Regions from separate parts of the Homo sapiens genome. Here region 2 is linked to region 1. A link means that fine-mapping ties the variant in region 1 to the expression of a gene that starts in the linked region. Tissue or cell type: whole blood. Region 1 holds a variant in brackets; the other region holds the start of a gene. Each region is shown on its reference strand, or each on the opposite one. Region 1 holds the start of LOC105375069 (a long non-coding RNA gene). Region 2 holds the start of TULP3 (TUB like protein 3).

Region 1 (8,142 bases):
CTCCTTTCTTCTGATTCCCTTTTCCAGACATGGGGAGAAGGGGCAGGTGGAGGCATCCGCCTTCCCAGAAGTCAGCCTAATCTCTGCCTGTCTTGAGAAAGATAATGAGGATTGCTCTGAAGGGTGGGGACAGGGGCTTGCTTGCTTCTTTGGCAGGGCACGGAATTTCTGAGAAGCCCTTCCCCCAAGATGCCAAGCCCCAAGTCCAACTGCCAGGGCTCAGGGAAAGAGGAACCTGGGGAACTAGGCATGGAAAAGGGAAAACCCTTGGGGCGGAGATATGATGTGTCACTCAGTGCTTCCTCATTGCCCTCCAGATAGGTAGGCTTCATTCCAGCCTCCCCACCTTTGCTTATGCCCTTCGTTCTGCTGGGAACTCCATCTGCATTCCTGTCTGCCTGCTCCAACCCTGCCCATCTTGAATGCCCCAGCTCAATCCAACTCCTCAAGAAGCTTCTGTGGCTGTTCCATCCTAGTGAGCTTTCTCCTCCCACGACCCTCAATGGCTGGGATAGAAGTTGCTCAATAGATTCTCATTAATTAGAATTTATTGATCACCTATTACATGTCAGTGTCTTGGGCTGGTTTCCTCTGAAATAAGGACTTGAGCATTAATAGTTTATTTGGAAGATTTCCATAAAACACCAGTAAAGGAGTAGAGAAGTGAGGCAGGAAAGAGAAAGAAGCCAATAAAATAAATGCCTGCTACTGAGTAGGTGACTGCTGTATGCAACTGGGGACCTTTGGGTAACTCATCTCAAAGTTACCCAGCCAGCGGGCAAGGGAGCTAGCGTATTAGCCATGAAATCATGTAGCCATTGGTTGAGAGATCCTAGGGAAGTGGGTGTCAATTCCCTGGCACTTCTGACCTGCCCTGTATGGGAATCCAAACGGGCTCAAAGTGTCAGAATGGTGGGTGCTGAGCGGACATGGGTGGATATATCCGTGTCTGCATATGCTGATAGCTGAGGATACAAAGATGAACAAAGCAATCCCCTGCCTTTCAGGAGTTGTACAATCAAGTCAGGGAGGCAGAGGGTTAAACACATTGTTCCAGGGCAGCACAGTACATTCCAGAATAGAGGTACAGTACATCCTCACTTAACATCATCAATAGGTCCTTGGAAATTGCAACTTTAAGTGAAATTACGTATAATAAAATGAATTTTTTTCTCACTTAAAAACAATGTTGAATGAAATGACATTATTTGAGGACCCGCTGTCTGTCATTTTGTTTAAAGTCAGTACTGTCTTCATAGTGGGCTGTGGGAGTTTAGGGGTGGGACACTTGACCAGCCTGGAATTCAGGGAAGAAATCCTGGAGAAGAGTGGAGTTTTGAAGGCAAATCATTGCCACTGTGAAAAGTGGCAGCAGGACATTCTACTTAGAGGGAACAGCATGGGCGAAGTCACCATGTGGGGTGGGGGGTGCTCTGAGCCTGCTGTCAGCTGACATGGCCAGCTCTGCTACCATCTCCATCCCAGCATAAGGGTCAGCTCAAGTTCAAAATAATTTTGAGATAGCAACTAATCTTAACTGTTAACCAGGGAGGACTGGCTGATGTTGAATTTGCAAACACAGGAAGATTTGCTCATTTACTGAGCTTAGTTAGAAATGTGTCACCCGCACTCTTTAAGTAAATCAACAGTCTCCACACTGTATCCACATTTGGGAAGACATTGGAACCTCACTTTTATTCTTTCTTTTGTCCTTTATAATGTACATAATTTATTAGTATGGTAGCACATATTGTATATCTTATATACATGTTAGGGGCATATGTCACAGATTTTCTGTGGATAGAGGTATATAATCAAAAGAATTGGGAGCCTACTGAAGTGGGTGATGGCTGAGGTAAGCTTGGGATATGCTTTAGAAAGAAGGTTCTAAACCCAGCTCCCCTACCCCATCCCTACTGGCAAGAGGTTAAGGTTGGGCTTTCTCTCTAGTGGCATCCCTGCTTGCTTGTTGTGCCATGTGAACATAGGCCATTTGAGGGCCAGGTTTGGGCTGCAGCTGTGGAATAGGCTTCTTTCTCCCTCCTCAGGCCCACTGACCCACCCAGGGGCTTGAGTCTTCTTTGGTAGAGGCGGCCTCCGTTTGGAGCCGTTTCCATGGTTATGAGGCAGGAGCTATCACTTGCTCTTTCTGTCCCTTGCCTCTGACTCTGATGGGTCTGCTCTGGGCTCCCTCCTGTCTGGTCTGAGGTCTCCAGGCCTGGTACAGGCCCTGCGCTCACACTTTCTGGCTGACTCACAGCTTCTCCAGCCACACTCCAGCCCCTGCCACTCACTCCTGGCCTGGCCCCATGGTCAGAGCTACTGTCAGTCACTAATTATCTTAGTCATCTTTCCATCTATGCTTGTTGAGCTAATGGAGAAGACAAACAGAAATCTCAGCAAATGTGGAAAATTCCTGCTGACAAGGCAAGGGGCCCTGGCCCAGGTTTGGTGAGATTAGACTTTCCCCAGTGAGGCTGCAGGGACGGCCCCCCAGTTTTGAACAGTTTAATTGGGAAGTGGCGGGCAGCCTTCCTGGTCAGTGCTGTGCCCCCTGGTTGGCAGTCCATCTTATCAAACACAGAGCAGGGCTTAACTCAGGGTGGGAGCGCTGGGGAACGGGGGCCACAGAGCCAGGTCTTGGTGGTATCATTATTCAGGCAGCCCCAGGGCTGTCTCTCCAGTTGGGATTCTTGGTTCTGGGGTCCTCCCGCCCCAACCAAGGATGCCCAGCTGGCCAAGTCAGCTGAACGGGAGGGTGAGGCCTGGGCTGCATGCTCTCTCACACCTGAGGCCTGTTAATAATTACCCCTGGGGAGGGCAAGGCCCCAGCAGACATCACTAATGAGCCTGCTAAGTGACAGCTGGGCCCTTTCCCCCTCACCTGCTCAGGAAAACAAGATCCGACCAAGGAATTATTTAACCCTTTTTGGGCTGGGCGCTCCCTGAGGACAGGGTTGTGCCTTCCCCTCAGACTGGGGCTTCCTGAGTCCCTGGAGCCTTCTCCATTGTCAGCACAAGACTTCTTCTATTCCTGTTGTCAGTGCTTGCATTTCTGCTCTAATGGAAGGCTGCTCTGTTTAGTGTCAGCTCTAAGCAGTGCTGTCCGCTAGAACATTCTGTGATGGTGGAAATGTTCTCGAGCCGCACTGTGGAAAACAGTAGCCACTAGCCACACGCGGGTACCGAGCACTTAAACTATGCATCTGATTTACGGTAGTTTTAAAACCCAATTTTAGTTAATTTAGATTATTTATGAATGAGACAGGGTCTCACTCTGTGGCCCAGGCTGGAGTGCAGTGGTGCAGTCTCGGCTCACTGAAGCCTCGACTTTCCAGACCTAAGCCATTCCCCCACCTCAGCCTCCTGAGTAGCTGGAACTACAGGCACACGCCACTACGCCTGGCTAATTTAAGAAAATTTTTTTGTAGAGGTAGGGTTTCACAACATTGTTCAAGCTGATAATTTAGATTTAAATGGCCACATGTGGCTAGTGGCTCCCATACTCCGTGGTGAGGTCTATAATGTTTCACAAGGGAGGCCTTGAACGGGTGGTGAACAGATTTATGCAAAACAACCCTCTAAACTGCAATCCCATTGGTAGGTCAGAGCCCATTTTCTCACCCTTGCAGGCTTGAAGGGGCCCAAGGTTATTTTCCTTGGAGATGGCTCCTGGAAGCCTGGGTGGGTTTCCTCACTACCTCCCTACAAAAGCCCCTAGGTGGCTGAGGGGCCCAGAGGAACAGGGATCTGGCTAGAAAGCACCTGTTCTTAACAAGGGTCCCCAGCAGCCAGGCAGCCCTCCCTCCACAGGGCACGGGGCTGTCGCTGCCTGAATGAGGGAGATTTATGGAAAATCCCCTCACACAACAGGCGGATTTTCCAAGCCTCATTGGTTGTTCTGGTCTGAGCCTTCATTAAGGGGAACAGGGGACAATGGAGGAGGTAGGGGTGAGGCCCTGGGTCCATTCAGCTCTCTATCCTTTGGCACTGGGAACTCCATCAAGGCCCCCCCAACCCTTTCCTGGCTTGAGGAAAGGTCACACTCTCTCCCCTTTCAATA[G/A]TAATAAAAGGCCCCAAATATCCAGCAAAGTCAGACTCGGCCTTTGAGGAATATCTTTCTTGCATTTTAAAAGATTTCCAGAAGAGATATTCTTTGGTTTTGCTTTACAATCCTCTGTGCCTTGTAATGCACGGTCTTGGAAGTTCCTCCCTACAGCTAACCTAATTTTATTACGCTTTAGGCCTGCCTCAGTAGGACTTCTCCTTTAAAGTTACGGCAACATTTCAAAGTAGCAAGATCAATTGTGTGACTTCCCAATAAAAATCCTTGATTGGAAGGAGAAACCACTGGCTACTAGAGCTGGAGGGACCCTAGAGATTTGCAGTCCGTTCCTCACTGCGCATTCAGAGAGTGTACCGCCCAAGCAGGTGGTGCCACACTTAGAGCCAGAATTCATGCTCCAGGTGGTACCCACCTGTATACCAGCTGCCTCTGCTGCAGCACAGTCACATAGAGATCCAGAGACCCATTGAGACAACCCTTCCAGAGGAAAGAGCACTGCTTGACCCAGGGGAATGGATTTCTAAGAGTGAATATTAGGTCTCATCCCAAAGGCTTTTTGTCTTAAAGCCCCTTCCAGAAAGTACTCAGTATGTAGTAAGGAGATCAGTGGGAGTGTCTTAGAGGTAAGACCGAGAGTGGCCCTTTGAAGGTGGCGAGGGAAGAGAAGGGTGAGGCATTCCCAGGGTTGCAAAGACTCAGGAGGGCTATGGCAGGGGCCTGGGGCGCTTCCCCTGTGTTGGGGATGTGACTGAGGCTGGGCATTGCTCACTGAGTAGAGTCGATGAGTACAGCCAGTTCCCTATAATGGTGGGTGTCCAGGTCCTGGGAGGTGACTCGCCTTGTCGAGGGAAACTGGTGGGAGCAGGAGGTGTTTATGGTTTTCCCTCTCCTGGGGGCAGCTGGAGTGAGCCAAGTTTACAGTTGCCCAGAACTCTATAAACACACTTGGTGAGCATGTGTGCGTATGTGAGTGCCTGTGCGGGTGAGTGTCCCCTGACATCTGACTGTCACCCCTGCTGGGCGGCCCTGACCTTCCTGACCTTGTGAGAAAGGAGAGAAGATGCTAAGCTGAGTGACTTTGCTCTCTTGGGCCTGGTGACACCTACTGAAGGGGTCCGTAAGCCTGGGCTATGTGGGACCCTGGGGGCCCTGTAGGCTTCCTTGGGAGGAAGGCCTTGAGGGGATCCTGGAGAGTGGGGAGGAGGAAGGGCATTCCAGGCCTGGGGAACTGCAGGAGCAAGGAGGTGTGTGTGTGTGTGTGTGTGTGAAAGAGAGAGATCGGAGCAGGAAAGGGCGAGCCTTACAAGAAAGAGAAACTTTGGGGAAGCCTTTAGATCTGACCTGATAGTTCGTAGAGACATATTGAAACCCTGTCTGGCACACAGGCCCCACGTGCTTATTATCATTAGTAATTATGACACGACACAGAGGTATTCCCTGGTTTGGTGACTGGGTAGCCTGAGCCCTCCATATTCTGGCCAGTGCTGAACATGGCTGGCATTAGGGATAGCTTGTGGTCTCAATTAGGGGCCAGCAGTGGCCAGGGTTAGGGGTCAAGTGGTAGCCAGGGTAAAGCAAGCTTGTAGTCAAGATAAAGGGTCAGCTGTGGTTATGACTGGCTGTTGATAAGTGGTTGGGGCTAGAGGTCAGATACTGACAATGAACAGTTTTCTATGTATGATGCTAACTGCTCTGGAAGCAGCTCACCTTATCTCGGAGGCATAATGAAGAGGCAGGAGCATTTGTCTGAGAACTAAGAAGACTTGGGTGTTAGCCCTTGTTCTACTCACTTATTCGCTGGGTGAGTTGCTTCACTTCTTTGAACGTCAGTCTTCCCTCTGCGGGAAAGTAACAATGCATGCCCTCCTGCCTTACAGTATGTGAGGTATTTGTTTCTGGGTATCCTATTATTAAATGTGATTAAATAATCATTAATAGCAACACAGCCTTTCCAATCTCACCCTGCCAGGCCTGTAGGTAAACCCTCAGTGTTGGCTGAGGGTAGGTTGGGGGAGTGGTTAAATAATGGTCCACAGACTTGGCCACTCATTGGAATTACCTGGACATTTACAAGAGCATACTGATGCCTGACTTACTCCAACCCTCCTGCATTCTGAATTAATTTATATGGGGTGACCAGGGCATCAGATGTTTTTTTAGACAAGGTCTCAGTCTGTCCCCCAGGCTGGAGTGCAGTGGCACGATCACGGCTCACTACAGGCTCGACCTCTTGGGTTCAATTCTCCCACCTTAGCCTCCCAAGTAGCACCAAGGACTATAGGTGCATGCCACTATACCCGGCTAATTTTTAAATTTTTAATAGAGACAAGGTCTCACTCTATTGCCTAGGCTGGTTTTAAACTCCTGAGCTCAAGCCATCTTCCCGTCTTGGCCTCCCAAAGTGCTGAGATTACAGGTGTGAGCCACTGTGCCCAGCCATGCATCAGAATTTTTGAAAGTTCCCCAGGTGATTCTAATGGGCAGCCAAGTTTGAAAACCACTGGGTAAAAGCCAGTACAAATGAACTAAAGAGAATGAGTCTTTAAGCAGCAACCTGAGCTGTAGATAAACCAACCAGCTGAATCCATGCCGCATTTCTGTGGGGAGCTGAGATGGGACAGCAGCAAGAGGCTTGGGGAGAACTTTCTCACTTAACCCTCTCCATACCTCTGTGTCTTCATTTGTCAAATGGGGTTATCTTTATACTTACCTCACAAAGGTTGTACTTTATAATAATCAGCCCCAGCCAGCCAAGAGATGTTGACTGAATATTGGGGACTGGAGTGGAGAAAGCAAGGTCCCTGGAACTTCCCTTCAGCGCTGCCTTACCCGAACTTTTTGAGGATAGTCTGAAGCCTGGGGATGGACAACATGACCTTGATGAACCTGGAATCTCCTGGCCCTGAAGAGGATCTTTGGCATATATGTCCCCTGTTTCAAACATCGTCCCCCTCAAATGCACTCACATTCATTTCATCACGTCTTTCATTTTTTTGTTCATTTCAGAAAATACCATCCCCATACTAACCTGTAGGACAGGTGGGGGATGGGGAGATGGAGTTCCATCACCTCTGGCTCTTTCCAGGGTTGGGATGGGATGTTATGGAGCCCCTGGAAGCTTCAGCTGAGGGTTGGGGGCAGCTCCTGGCCAGGTTTCCAGTGTCTTGGTCCTCCGGGGAAAATGAAGTTTTCTTTTGTGGTCTGTGTGTCTTTAAGACTTGAAGGCTGTGGGGACCTGACTGGGGAAAATTCCAACCAGTGGGTTCCTTTGAAATGGAAGTGACATCTAGTGGTCTGAAAAAGAACTGCCAAGTTGACCCCCCCCAGCCCCAGGCTGCCCCTGGGGTCCCTTCCCTGGCCCCAGGTCACTTTCCTGCTGGGCCACAACCCTGCTTGAGGGCAGTCTAAGTCCTGACAGTGGGCTTTTGGTGGCAGGGTGACTCTCTTGGCCCTGCCCAGGCTGGAACCCAGGCCAGGTACCTGCACTCAGGTCCAGACACAGAGAGGCCAGGCCCAGGGCAGCCAGAAGAGGCCCAAATATGCCAGGGCTGCAACATCGCGTCCCCAGGTGAGGTGGAATCCTTGGGTCTCGTGTCTGTTGATTCTGAGGAGCCCTGTCCTGAGTCTTCCACAGAAGTCAGAGTGCTGTGCAGGCCTCAGTGCTGAATCATCCTGTGGCCAGGCTGCTGTTATGCAATGATCCCGCCGTGGGTCCACTGGTGTCAGCGGCTGGCCTTCAGCCTCCCCTTCAGGGAGGCAAGGGGCTTTGGGCGGTGCATGTGCCCAGACTTGGGATGTGTGAAATGACGGCCTGCTCAAACACCTGGCCTTGGAACCAAAAGGGAGGGTGGGAGGAGGGGACAGTGCCCAGTCGCTTGTTCTCTAAGGTTCCTGACTTGAGGAGCCCCAGTCTGAGGGGGAGACATAGCCCTGCCCTCAGGGAACCCCAGAGATCCCTGATGAGGGCGGGAGCAGGAAGGAAAAACACACGAGTGGAACAGACCTGATGAACCCTGCAAAGCGCCAGAAAAGCCAGAGCAGATGATTTTAGGACAGCAGGGCCCCAGGGGCTGTGC
Region 2 (8,142 bases), not on the chromosome of region 1:
TGTTCCCTCAACTTCATGTGAAAGGTGGAGTACTTGGCTAGATACTCTGTTTATTGTGTAATGGATTGAACCTTGAAAAATAAAACCCCATAAGAATAGCATATGTCATATTTTGACCGCTTAAAAGCCCTGGGAAGAGAGGCCGGGTGTGGTGGCTCATGTTTGTAATCCTAGAACTTTGGGAGGCCAAGGAAGGAGGATTGCTTGAGCCCAGGAGTTCGAGACCAGCCTGGGCAACATGGTGAAACCCCATCTTTACTAAAAATATTAATAGAAAAATTAGCTGGGCATGGTGGTGCGCACCTGTAGTCCCAGCTACTTGGGAGGCTAAGGTGGGCAGATCTCTTGAACCGGGAGGTCAAGGCTGTAGTGAGCCAAGATTGTGCTACTGCACTCCAGCCTGGGCAACAGTGTGAGACCCTGTCTCAAAAAAAAAAAAAAAAAAAAAATAGAAACCCTGGGAAGAGAATATAGCTACTATACAACAGGAAAGTAGTATAGTAAAAGGGCCAGACAAAAGCATAAGCTTGGCTTAGGAGTATTTAATAAATGTAACTTATTCAGGACTGCTTGGAAGAACCATAATACCTGCTACAGGATTGTGGAAGAAACCTAAACATCAGAATCCTGTGGATGAGAGTAGGAATGAACATTTATTGAATATTCATTATATGCCAGGTCCTCTGCTAGTTCTCACCCGCTATGCTTGGAGTTGGCTATTCATTAACTGAGGGCCTTCTTTGTTCCAGGCATTCTGCTAGGTGCTGGGAATCAAGAACAAGACCACTGGTCCCTACCCTCATGAAGTTTAAAGATAAATAAGTTATATCTAGACCAGGTGTTGTGGCTTACGCCTGTAATCCCAGCACTTTGGGAGGCTGAGGTGGGTGGATCACTTGAGGTCAGGAGTTTGAGACCAGTCTGGCCAACACGGTGAAACTCTGACTCTATTAAAAATATAAAAATTGGCTGGGTGCCGTGACTCATGCCTGTAATCCCAGCACTTTGGAAGGCCGGGGTGGGTGGATCACCTGAGGTCAAGAGTTCAAGGTCAGCCTGGTCAACATGGTAAAATCCTGTCTCTACTAAAAATACAAAAATTAACTGGTCGTGGTGGTGCGCACCTATATTCCCAGCTACACGGGAAGCTTAGGCAGCAGAATCGCTTGCATCAGGGAGTCGGAGGTTGCAGTGAGCAGAGACCTGCCATTGCACTCCAGCCTGGGCGACAAGAGCAAAACTCTGTCTCCAAAAAAAAAAAAAAAAAAAAAATACCTGGGCGTGGTGGCAGGCGCCTGTAGTCCCAGCTACTCGGGAAGCTGAAGCAGGAGAATCACTTGAACTGGGAGACAGAGGTTGCAATGAGCCGAGATGGTGCCGCTGCATTCCAGCCTAGACGTCGGAGTGAGACTCCATCCCAGGGGGAAGAAAAAAAGTTATATCCATATGGTGTGATGAAGTGAAAGAGACATCGTCCCCTTTCCTACACATGAGGAAGCTGAAGGCCGGAGAGATGGAATAATTTGCCCAAAGCTTCCTGTTATTATGCCATTAGACAGTTATTTTAGTTTTGTGTTCATTACTACAGTAGACCCCGATTTAAGAGTCTGGTCATCAGATACAGTTTCCTCTCTTAGGTTAGTACTTAGTTAGGCTCACCTCACTTTTTTTTTTTTTTTAAGGTATCACCTGATTTTGATACAGCAGCAGGAAGCTTGTTCCCAGCCTACCAGAAACACCAAAACCGGGCGAGACACTCAAGTCGAAAACCTACCACCTCCAAGTTTCCACATCTAACTTTTGAGAGTCCGCAATCTTCCAGTTCAGAGACATTGGGGATCCCCTTAATCCGAGAGTGCCCCAGTGAATCAGAAAAGGATGTTTCCAGAAGACCCTTAGTTCCAGTGCTCAGTCCCCAAAGCTGTGGGAACATGTCAGTGCAGGCACTTCAGAGCTTACCTTATGTGTTCATTCCACCTGATATCCAGACCCCAGAGTCATCGTCTGTGAAGGAAGAACTCATTCCCCAAGATCAGAAGGAAAACAGCCTTCTAAGCTGCACTCTTCACACTGGCACTCCTAATAGCCCAGAGCCTGGACCTGTTCTGGTTAAAGACACCCCCGAGGACAAGTATGGAATAAAGGTCACATGGAGGAGACGACAGCACCTGCTTGCTTACCTCAGGGAGAGAGGGAAGCTGAGCAGAAGCCAATTCCTTGTGAAAAGCTGACTGCCATCAGTAATCTCAATAGAAAAGAGATATGTTTTCTGGAGTCATAAAGGAATTCAATTCCTAGGGTTTTTGTTTTTGTTTTTGAGATGTAATATTGCTCTGTTGCCCAGGCTGGAGTGCAGTGGTATGATCTCACCTTACTGCAACCACCACTTCCTGGGTTCAAGCGATTCTCCTGCCTCAGCCTCCCCAGTAGCTGGGATTACAGGCACCAGCCACCATGCCTGGCTAATTTTTTTGTATTTTTAGTAGAGATGTGGTTTCTCCATGTTGGCCAGGCTGGTCTCAAAATCCTGACCTCAAGTCATCTGCTGGCCTTGACCTCACAAAGTGCTGGCCCAGCCGAGATTTGTTTTCTAAGATACTTTGTGTCATGAACAGTTCAGTTTAGTGTCATGAACTATTCACTTCATATTTTTCTTGTATTAACTGTTTAAATTTTTAAAATATCTTGTAGTAACTCTTTAAAATGTATGTAAGTAAATGGCTGCAGAAAGTTTTTTTAGAGAATCCTGCTTCCATCAGTAATACAGCAATATTACCCCATCCACTAATGGTCTTTGTTTCCTTAACCACTACTCATTAATCCTTAATCACCTCATTCAAACTAATTCATTCTGCATTTTTGAGTACCAACTCTTGTCAGGCTCAGTGGCAGCTTCTACGACCTGATGGATGGAAAAAAATCAAACTCTGTGACTCTATGGTTGACTGCCACCTCTGCAACCTTGACTCATCTGCTGAAAAGGCAAGAAGAAGAAAGGGCAGCAAGCCCTGTTTTAGGGACTACATAAGATGAGGGGAGATAAGGGGGACATAGATGAGTTCTTTAGGATTGCGTGTGTTTTGAGTTTTTGTTTCTAACTGAAGAAATCTGTCAATATTAAATAGGGTGGGAAAATGGTTTCTTAGAATAACTGTTCAACTGTGTGTAAATAAGGAAAGTTTTCAATGAGTATTACTTATTGTAATTAATGCAGAAGGACTTCCCCAGTCAACCGAATGTCTCGGCCTTTTACTCAGACAAGTAGCATCTCATTAAACCCATTCATTTAGCATTCATTCAGCTGGACCTACTGTGTCAGGTCCAGCCCCAACTAGATCAAGCAGGGATTACTGTATATTTTACAGATGGGAGTTTGATGCAGAGAATGAACCATGCACAGGTCACACAGTGAGTGCACGCTGACCCAGGCAGTGTAACGGTCCACTCTCAGCGTGTGCCTCCTAAAGTACTAACTTGTAGGTTCAAAACCAATGTGGAAACAACTTTGACCTTAGAACGCCATAAAGCCATTTGTGCAGTGACTTGTCAGGACTCAGGATGTTTTGTAGGGACTATAATGTGCATGTCGGTAGGGAGAAAGGGACTGACATTTGGGGACGGGATTTATTGGAGACAAGAGTACACATTTAGACAGGGGCTCTCACGGTGGGCTATGGATGTTTGAGGAAGGCCCACAGGAGGTAGAAAGGTAGATGGAAAGAGTCTCCAGGACGGGCCCACGCCTGTAATCCCAGCACTTTCGGAGGCTGAGGCGGGTGGATCATTTGAGGTCGGGAGTTAAGAGGCCAGTCTGGCCAACATGGTGAAACCCTATCTCTACTAAAAATACGAAAAATAGCCAGGCAGTAGTGGCCCCTGCCTGTAATCCCAGCTACTCCACAGGCTGAGGCAGGAGAATCGCTTGAGCCTGGGAGGCGGAGGTTGCGGTGAGCTGAGACCGGGCCACTGCACTGCAGTCTGGGCGAGAGAGAAACCCTGTCTCAAAAAATTAAAGTCTCTGGATTCCCTCGTGTGCTTTAGGGGAGTCTGTAGAGCAGGTCTAGGAATGACCTAAAAGCTTGGGCTGGAGTAGGGGAAGCTTAAGTTCTGTGCAGTTGAAGTTCAAGGCCAGCCTATGGAAGATGCGTTTCACTGGGAGTGACTGATGGAGTGGAGAGGGTACCAGAGGGGGTCCACGAAGGCCGCTGGTATCAGGGCAGGGGCCAGAATGGGAAGCGGCAGAGGTCTGTACATCCTCACAGGGCAGACCTCGGGAAGCGCTCTGGGTGGGCTCGGTAAAAATGGCGGGGGTGCGAGGAGCCGTTGCGTGCGTGGCGGTTGGTGCGGTATAGGAGACTCCTCTGACCGGACTCGCCTGCTGGCCGCGCGGCGGGCGAGGCCCAGGCAAAAACAAAGTCTTCCCGCTCAGTACCGGCCCCGCGAGGCGCTCCAGAGGACCAAGCCTTAGCTCGCGTCACCCCACCCCCGCGCAGGCGCGTTTAACTCCCGCTCGCCTCCCGCCCCTTAGCAACCCTCCCGCATCGTTGGGCCCCGGCAATAGCCAATGAGACAGGAGCCACGAGAACACGGACCAATCGGCGGCGGCGACAGTGTGGAACGCGGTTGCCAGGAGGCGGGACGCGGCGGCGTGCCAGCCTAGCCACTCTAGCGACGGCGGGGAAGAGTGTGTACGTGGTGGGGGCTTCCTCGGTGGCGGGCATGGAGGCTTCGCGCTGCCGGCTCAGTCCCAGCGGCGACAGGTCAGACAGGGCCGTGGCAGGTCTCCTCCTGAGCGAGGCGGAGGGGCGAAGCGAGAAGGCGGAGGTCCTCTCCGGGAGCCCTGCGGGGAGAGGGCGGGACTCGGGACTTGGCGACTCAGGGAGGGACTGGTTTCGGCGGCGGGAGGCGACCCCCTCGCCCTACTCCCGTGTGGGGACCCCTTTCTCAAGTGGAGCGGCGGCACTACATCCCGCGCCGTGGGCAGAGACCTTTGGTTCAGGTCCCTGCTTAGGAACTTCTGGAGTTTTCGTGACGGGCTCCCTCGGCCCCTCTGGGCCTCGGGTTTCCCTCGGGGGAGAGGCGCTGGCCCCGCTCAGCTCCCACTGCCCGGCGGTGTCACAGCCGAGAGGGGACCCAGCCCCTCCCGGGAGGCGGTGCGGGTGATGTTTAGTAGCTTGTTCTGACGCCGCTGCTTCGGACGGGTAAAGCTGAATTCTGGAGCAGAGTCCGAGGAGCGGAAACGCGAAACTTCTTTTTCCTCTCTGCTTTCCAGTGTTTGTCCCTGATTCGGGATGGTCTGACTGATTTGCCAGTGGGCCACACCCCTTGTTTGTGCGCCTCTTTCTCTGCCAGAGGGAGAGCCTCGGAAAAAAAAGGATCCAAAATCTCAGCGTGTCACTTTCTTGTTCGCTAGGTTAATGAGAAGTTAATGGGAAGCCGTTTGAAATCATTGGTTAGAAACTTTGGCGTCATCTGAGGATTTAAGCCCTACACGCCAACTGTATACCCCGCTTTTTATTCCATTACCAAGACAAAGATTTGGGGCCAGGCGCCTTGGAACACGTCTATTATCCCCAGCACTTTGGGAGGCCAAGGCAGGAGGATCGCTTGGTCTCAGGAGTTCGAGACCAGCCTGGACAAGATAGCGAGACCCCCATCTCTAGAAAAAAATAAAATAAAATAAAATCAATCAGTCAATCAATTAAAATTTGGCCGGACACGGTGGTGCGCGCCTGTAGTTCCAGCGACTCGAGAGACTGAGGAGGGAGGATTCCTTGAGCCCAGGAGTTCCAAACTCCTGTGTTGGGCCACTGAGCTCGCTAGCCTGGGCAACGCAGTGACATCCTGTCACCTTAAAAAAAAAATGATTTGACGTGTAAGTATTTAGTTTGATATTTCCACTAGTAGATATTTAAACAATTTTAAACCATTTTTAAAAATTGTCACAAAGTTGTTGGGGGTAAAGAACATGTATTTTCCTTTTTCGTCAAGTTCTATTGAGGTGATAGCTGCACTCTGAAATTTGTTCACTGTGCTTTTTTTTTTCCCAAGTCGAGGAAGAAAACTACATTTACAGGTGTAAGTGGTAGAGGAGATAAAGTTAGTATTCAGCATCTCTGGTTGAATTCCGAAAATATTTGTTCAGTTGTGGGCGCTCAGTTTTAATTCCATGAATTTAAAGTAGTAAATTTCATGAGTACCAGATGTTTGATATGACTCAGATTTTTTGGGGAAAAAAAAACGGGATGCGGGATTGACTTTGAAATTGGGACCAAGAGGCTTTTCCTTCCTTTTTTTTTTCTGAGACGGAGTCTCTCTCTGTCGCCAGGCGGTAGTGCAGTGGTGCGATCTCGGCTAACTGCAGCCTCCGCTTCCCGGGTTCAAGTGATTCTCCTGCCTCAGCCTCCTGAGTAGCTGGGACTATAGGCACGCGCCACCACGCCCAGCTAATTTTTGTATTTTTAGTAGAGACGGGGCTTCACCATGTTGGCCAAGATGGTCTCGATTTCTTGACCTGGTGATCTGCCCACCTCGGCCTCCCAAAGTGCTGGGATTACAGGCGTGAGCCACTGCGCCTGGCCCCCTCCTTGTTCTTCCGAAAGAAACTAGCTCTTTAAATTTTATTTTCTTTTCTTTTAATTTTAATTTTTTTTTTTTTTTGAGACAGGGTCTCACTCTGTCGCCCAGGCTAGGATGTGGTGGGCGATCTCAACTAATTTCAACCTCTTCCCCAGGTTAAGCGATCCTCCCACCTCAGCATCCCTAGTAGCTGGGACCACAGGTGCGTGGCACCACCTGGCTAATTTCTTGTATTTTTTGTAGAGGTGGGGTTTCGTCATGTTGCTCAGGCTGGTGTCGAAGTGAGCTCAAGTGATCTGCCTGCCTCAGCCTCCAAAACTTCTGGGATTACAGGCCTGAGCCACTGCACTTGGCCCTAAATTGTAAAATTGACATCAAAGGGGAATGTGTGAGTCACCAAATGTTTCTCCTGCCCTCTGTAATGTTAGTGCAACTTCTATCAGTGTTTAACTCATTTGTTACTAAGAGGGAGTCTCTTGCTTTTTTCTCTTTTTGGGCTTCAGGTTGTGTGTTTAATGTGTTTTTTTTTTTTTTTTTCCAAACGGAGTTTCGCTCTCGTCGCCCAGGCTGGAGTGCAGTGGCGCCATCTTGGCTTACTTGCCTCCTGGGTTCCAGTGATTCTCCAGCCTCAGCCTCCTGAGTAGCTGGGATTACAGGCATGCGCCACCGTGCCCGGCTAATTTTTATATTTTTAGTAGAGAGGGGGTTTCTCCATGTTGGTCAGGCTGGTCTTGAACTCCCGACCTCAGGGGATTCGCCCGCCTCGGCCTCCCAAAGTGCTGGGATTACAGGCGTGAGCCCCCCAACCCTGCCTGGCTGTTTAATGTTTTTGATGAAATACATTGATAGAATTTTCTGTATTACTGCCTTTCAATGTAAGGATAACAACCAACTTTTAGGTTTTCTGTGTTTTTTTTTTTTCTTGGAATTATGTAACTTTTATCATGAAGCAGATTTATTTTCAACAAAATAGAGAAATTATTAACTACAAATATTTTTTTTAATTTTTATTTTTTTGTAGAGACAAGGTCTCACTATGTTGCCCAGGATGGTCTTGAAGTCCTGGTCTCAAGTGATCCTCCTGCCTCAGCCTCCCAAAGTGCTGGGATTACAGGTGTGAGCGACCAGGCTTGGCCTATTTTCTTATATCAGAAATGTTTAGTGAAAATTGGAGGTGAAATTTGAAACAACACTCAGGACCTTTGTTGAGGCTAGGCATTTTATAATATAGATTCCCTGGAGATGACGGGGGTTGGCTGGTGCTGGAACTTGAGCCCTATCTGGCCTTTTGTAAGTGATAGAGAATTGAGAATTGAAGGCGTGCTTCCCACTGTGGTGTGACCTTGTGAGCTGGAGTCATCTAAGAAATCCCAGTCGGTGGTTTGTCCATATACCATGATTTCTCTTTAGAAATATAAACAGTAGGCTGGGCATGGTGGCTCACACTTGTAATCCCAGCACCATGGGAGGCCGAGATGGCGGGGGGGCGGGGCGGGGGGGGGGAAATCACCTGAGGTCACGAGTTCAAGACCAGCCTGACCAACATGGAGAAACCCTATCTCT

Evidence for each region. PIP is the estimated chance that this variant, and not a neighbour inherited with it, causes the effect.
Region 2: it holds the start of TULP3, and the variant in region 1 is fine-mapped to the expression of TULP3 in whole blood (TOPMed, PIP above 0.99).

The regions. Positions count from the first base shown.
Region 1 is chr6:43,831,108-43,839,249 of GRCh38, forward strand. All of the region lies in intron 1 of LOC105375070 (a long non-coding RNA gene), which reads left to right. It overlaps LOC105375069 (a long non-coding RNA gene), which reads right to left and starts at 7,692. Exons shown (of 3, transcript XR_001744130.1): 1 at 7,547-7,692; 2 at 6,777-7,305; 3 at 5,825-5,904. The variant G/A (reference allele first, on the strand shown) is at 4,064.
Region 2 is chr12:2,886,229-2,894,370 of GRCh38, forward strand. TULP3 (TUB like protein 3) reads left to right here and starts at 4,663. Exons shown (of 11, transcript NM_003324.5): 1 at 4,663-4,760. The coding sequence starts at 4,720. It overlaps RHNO1 (RAD9-HUS1-RAD1 interacting nuclear orphan 1), which reads left to right. Exons shown (of 3, transcript NM_001252499.3): 3 at 1,683-3,296. The coding sequence ends at 2,231. It overlaps LOC124902860 (a long non-coding RNA gene), which reads left to right. Exons shown (of 2, transcript XR_007063160.1): 2 at 1-98. RefSeq lists an enhancer at 4,059-4,238 and a silencer at 4,509-4,558.